Regions from separate parts of the Homo sapiens genome. Here region 2 is linked to region 1. The links come from fine-mapping of genetic effects on gene expression. Tissue or cell type: whole blood. Region 1 holds a variant in brackets; the other region holds the start of a gene. All regions are shown on one strand. Distances are from middle to middle.

The links. PIP is the estimated chance that this variant, and not a neighbour inherited with it, causes the effect.
Region 2: FMNL1-DT starts here. The variant in region 1 is fine-mapped to the expression of FMNL1-DT in whole blood (TOPMed, PIP 0.98).

Annotation. Positions count from the first base shown.
Region 1 is chr17:45,326,880-45,329,633 of GRCh38, reverse strand. It overlaps the pseudogene RNA5SP443. Among named protein-coding and RNA genes, the nearest start is that of MAP3K14, 11 kb to the right of the region's middle. The variant C/T (reference allele first, on the strand shown) is at 1,714.
Region 2 is chr17:45,220,678-45,223,431 of GRCh38, reverse strand. FMNL1-DT (FMNL1 divergent transcript) reads left to right here and starts at 1,667. Exons shown (of 3, transcript NR_147507.1): 1 at 1,667-2,083. FMNL1 (formin like 1) reads right to left here and starts at 1,547. Exons shown (of 27, transcript NM_005892.4): 1 at 1,179-1,547. The coding sequence starts at 1,307. RefSeq lists enhancers at 8-508, 509-1,009 and silencers at 856-1,150, 1,073-1,182, 1,463-1,512, 1,523-1,972.

The DNA of each region.
Region 1 (2,754 bases):
GATTCAAAGTGAAAGAGATCTTCTAAGAGAATGCAAATTGGTGACAGTTCATGAAAGCAAAACAAAGCGCCCGGCGCGGTGGCTCACGCCTGTAATCCCAACACTTTGGGAGCCCAAGGCGGACGGATCACAAGGTTAGGAGTTCGAGACTAGCCTGGTCAACATGGCGAAACCCCATCTCTACTAAAAATACAAAAATTAGCAAGGCTTGGTGGCATGCACCTGTAATCCCAGCTACTCGGGAGTCTCAGGCAGGAGAATCACTTGAACCTGGGAGACAGAGGTTGTGGTGAGCCGAGATCACGCCACTGCACTCCAGCCTGGTGGCAGAGCGAGACTCCATCTCAAAAAAAAAAAAAAAAAACCCACAAAGCAAAATTTTCATGACCAGGAACTCCAGGAAATCTAAGTATAAGAATCACCAAATAAGTAGTAAACAATAATAAATGATAAGCAAATCAGCTGCCTAGGAAGAATTATGGAGGTGAGAATGTTTCAACATGAAAGATGAGTGAAGATACAAAAATAAACATAAAATACAATATAATAAGCCTAGCCTTTTCTCCTTGCTTTGTTTAATTTGATGATTTCCTAACCTCACTCATTTGACTATCACCTTTGTGGGTTTTTTCCACATCTGAATTCCACCTATGTTATTAATTTACTTAACATTCTTCTCTATATTGACTCATTTTTTTTTTACTTAAATTATTTTGAGGCTGGGCACGGTGGTTCATGCCTGTAATCCCAGCACTTTGGGAGGCTGAGGTGGGAGGATTGCTTGAATCCAGTTGTTGGAGACCAGCCTGGGCAACATAGTGAGACCCTGTCTCTACAAAAAATAAACAAAATTAGCCAGGCATGGTGGTGCATGCCTGTAGTCCCAGCTACTTGGGAGGCTGAGATGGGAGGATTGTTTGAGCCCAGGAAGTTGAGGCTGCAGTGAGGCATGATGGTGCCACTGCACTCCAGCTTGGGTGACAGAGAGAGACCTTGCCTCAAAAAAATAAAATAAAATAAAAAATAAGTTTAAAAAATTATTTTGAAAGGAACCTGCGTATTTTAAAGGGAACCTTCATATTTTGACTATAGATGGAAAATCAATAACATTTGCTATATAGAAATAAATCCAGTAACAACCAAACATTGTTATTCAACTCTAGCTAGGCTCTGTGGTCTGTCATACACTCTAAACCTAAGGCCAGCACTTTCTGTCTTAAAGAAATTTACAAGTGTCAGAGAGAGATACATTAAAGACATATCGGCACTCAGCGAGGTGCGGTGGCTCATGCCTGTAATCCCAGTACTTTGGGAGGCCGAGGCCGGTGGATCACTTGAGGTCAGGAGTTCGAGACCAGCCTGTCCAAAATGGTGAAACCCCATCTCTACCAAAAATACAAAAATTAGCTGGGCTTGGTGGCACACACACCTGTAATCCCAGCTACTCGGGAGGCAGAGGCAGGAAAATCACTTGAACCCGGGAAGGTGGAGGTTGTAGTGAGCCGAGATTGCACCACTGCACTCCAGCCTGGACAACAGAGCGAGACTCAGTCTCAAAAAAAAAAAAAAAAAAAAAAAAAAAAGACACATTGGCACCAAAGTGAGACTTTCTACTTGACTTAATTAGAAGAATTGAAAGTGTGACCCACTTCTAGTAGTTAATCCTATGGCTATTCTCCACTACAGAATGGCAGCTCCATGATGCAGGGACTC[C/T]ATCTATTGTGTTCACTGCTCTGCCTCTGGTGCCTAGACCTGACCTGGTGCATAGTAGGTGTTCGGAAAATATTTGTGGAACGCATGGATTAACTAATATGCAAAATGAAATACATATAAGGATATTTATTGCAACAATTCTTATAATGGTTGGAAATGGTTGGAAACAAGTCTATCAACAGTGAACTGGGTAAATTATATACCAGTCATACAGTTGAATAGCATGAGTCTTTATAAAAGAAGGAGGCAGTTCTATATGTATGATGTGGAACCCACTGATAAGTGAGATAGGCAAGGTACAGGGCAGTTGTGGATAGTATGCTTCCATTAACTTTTTAGAAAGAGGCTATAGGAATGTATCGTTTGCACATGCTGAAGTACATCTGGAAAAATACACAAGGAACTGGTAAGAATGATTGCTTCGTCTACTGCCATACCACCCTGAACACGCCCGATCTCATCTGATCTTGGAAGCTAAGCAGGGTCAGGCCTGGTTGGTACCTGGATGGGAGAATGGTTGCTTCAAAAGAGCCTGGGGGCCAAGCACAGTGGCTCATGCCTGTAATCCCAGCACTCTGGGAGGCCGAGATGGGCGGATCACCAGAAGTCAGGAGTTCAAGACCAGCATGGCCAACACGGTGAAACCCCATCTCTACTAAAAATACAAAAATTAGCTGGGCCTGGTGGTGGATGCCTGTAATCTCAGCTACTTGGGAGGCTGAGGCAGGAGAAGCACTTGAACCCGGGAGGCAGAGGTTGCAGTGAGCCAAGACTGAGCCACTGCACTCCAGCCTGGGCAACAGAGCAAGACTCCATCTCAAAAAAAAAAAAAAAAGAAAAGAAAAGAAAAGAAAAAGAAAAAAAGAGCCTGGGGCCAGAGGTGGGAGAAGCATGCTCTTTTGGAATTTGTACAAACCGCATGCATCAATTATTCAAGAAATAGACAAATCTAAAAAAGAATTAGAGAATAACTAGCTCAGCATGAGATCCAATGTTTCTTAGAGCTGTGGGCCACCACACATCATCTAGTGCACCCCTCGG
Region 2 (2,754 bases), 110 kb after region 1:
CAACATTTTCAGGAACTGTTAGGAGGTGACCCTCTGGAGCCATGCTGAGGATCTAGCACGTATGGCCTAATGACCAGCCAGGCGAGGGGAAATGATGTCAAGGAGATGGAGGGCCACCAACTGAGCCAGAACCCTCTGCGGCCTGTGTCTCCGTTGAGCCCCCACCCTCAGACCTGCAGGGACTGGGAAATGCATCTGGGAGAAGGCACAGCCTCATTTTGCCTGTCACCCAGCGTCCAGCAAGGGAAGGCTGACAGCAGGCAGGCCACCAGGCAATTAGTTAGAGGAGGGAGCCAGGGCCAGGGCGTCGGGGGTGGGGAGAGTGAGAGTGAGCAGCTCTTCCTCTCCCTACTTCTGCCTTATGCAGGGTCTTGGAGACCCCTGAGTCTGCTCTGGAGCCCCCACCCCACTGAACATGTTGACTGTTTCCAGGCTCGGCCTGAGCTGCTGGTTCCCTCCCAGAGACCTATTCCCCAGCGACCCCGCTCCAATTCCCCAGGTAGGCACAGAGGGGGGTGGTTCCAGATTTTGCTCCACCCCTAGCCTGGGCGACCCACCCGTCCTGACCCCACCCTCCCTCATCTTACTCCCTTCAGTGGCTTGGAAAGGATGCCCCAAGATAAAGACCCACAGGCACCCTGGCTCTGACATATGGCGGGGTAGAAACACAGATACCTCCTGGCCATGATCCGACAACCCCATTCCCCGCAGCCCAGGCGCCCAACAAATCAGGACCCAACACCTCCAGCAGGTCTCCCGCTCCCGGGAGGTTGTAACCCTTTCATCTTTGACTCCAGACACAGAAAGGCAGATGCCCCAGACCCGCGCCCGGTGGCTGGGCCTGCGTGCAGTGGGGAAGGGGGCGACCCGGGACCCCTGTGCGTGCCCCGCTCCCAACTTCTTCACAGGACATACTTGTTTAGACCTTAAGACCCAGCTGGGGTGGAGGCGTCTTAGGGAGGGAGACCGGGCGATAACTGAAGAAAGTTTTGGGGGGAGAGTGCTAAGTCACTCTGAAAAAAAGGCCACTGTCGCTCCCACCTCCTGGAGGGGGCAGCTGCCGGACCGGGGATCTCCAAGCGGCACCTGAGTCCCCGGGGGCGGGGACGCGCGCCCAGCCCCTGCCGCGCCCCTGCCGCCCCCCGCCCGCGCCCGACCCGCCTCCGGGTCGCACTCACCAGGGCGCGGTTGAACCTCTCCTCCAGCTCTCCGGCCGCGGGCATCGGCTGCTTGGGAGGCGCGGGCTGCTTGGGGGGCGGCGCGGCGGGGCCCGCGGGCTGCTCGGCGCTGCCGGCCGCGTTGCCCATGGTGGTCCCCACCCAGCCGGCCAGGCGCCTCCAGCCTCGGAAATCCAGCTTTCCGGGGGACGGGGACGAGGCTCCCGGCCCGGGCGGGGGCGAGGGGGCAGCGGCTGGCGGTGGCGGCGGGGGTCTCGGCAGCGGGGGGCGCTCGGCTCAGCGGCGCGCAGGGGCCGGAGCGCGGCGTCCCATCGGGGCGGCCCCGTCCGTGGGACCGGGCGGCGAGCTGCAGGGTTGGGGGAGGAAGTCAGGCTGCAGGCCGCCGGGGCCAGAGGGCTGGGCCGGGGGCAGGAAGCTGCGGCGCTGGCTCCCCCCTCGGCGATTTTCGAACTTCTGCTGTCGCTCCCCGTGCGCGCAAACCGCAGTTCGCCGCCGCCGCCGCCGGGCACCCAGCCCCAGGGGGGCGGGCTGGAGGGAGGGGGCGGGCGCTGGCCGGGGGACCCCCGCAACCATGGCGGGCGGGGAGTGGGCTGCCGAGCCGCTTCACCTGCCGCAGAGGGGGCGGCCGGCGCCGCTTCACCTGCCGGAGCGGGAGGCCACCGAGGCGAGGCCGAGGCGGCGGCGCGCTCGGCGGCGCCTCCGGGTCCTAGAACCGCATCCTCCCGCTCGCCTCGGGCGAGGGATTGGCCGGGTCTGGGTGAAGGGGATCACGGCCTGGGGATTGGAGGGGCACATCTTCTCCGCACCGAGGATCTCAGCGACTGCGAGCACGGCTCGGAGACCCACGGTGGTGCAGCGTTGGGGCGCCAGGGCTGCGTTCCCGTCTCGCGTCCCGGACTGAGAAGGTGGGAACCCCCTTCCAGGCCCCCCACCTTTTATTTCTCTCCTCCCCTGCTTAGCCCAGAGACGAGCTGAGGACGAGGGGGAGCCATCTCCAAACAGGAACTCCTAAACAGGGTGGGGGGCGCGGACGCAGGCCAGTGGAGACCCCCGCCACCTGTCCCACCTCGACCAACCGTGCGCCTGTGCAGGGCACCCCTACAGGTTTTAGAATGGGGGCACCTATGGAATATGGCAGGCTGCGAGAAGCTGGGCCCGCCAAGGTGGTCCCAAGGAGGAGTGGGGGGTTGCGGAAAGGAGGATGAGAGCCAGCCACAAGGCTGGAAAAGGAGTGGGCACCGCAGAGGAGGGAAAAAGAATCTTGACACTGTCACCGCCAGGGATCTAGGGGGGCCTCTTACCTTGGAGAATAACAATCTCTGATGTCTGCTAATTACAGAAATACTTTCAGAGCTCTTTCATTCATCCTGACAATGGCCAGAGAAGGTAGGTATTGGTAGCCTTATTTTAGAGATGGGGAAACTGAGGCTGAGAGTAGGTAAGTAAGCTGTCCAAGGGCACTCAGCTAACAAAGGACAGAAGCAAGCCTCCTCACTGTCTACCTCCAAAACCTACACTGGCTTGGAGTTGCTGTCCTGGCCCTCCACTGCCCATCTCATGTAGGACGGGAGAGTAT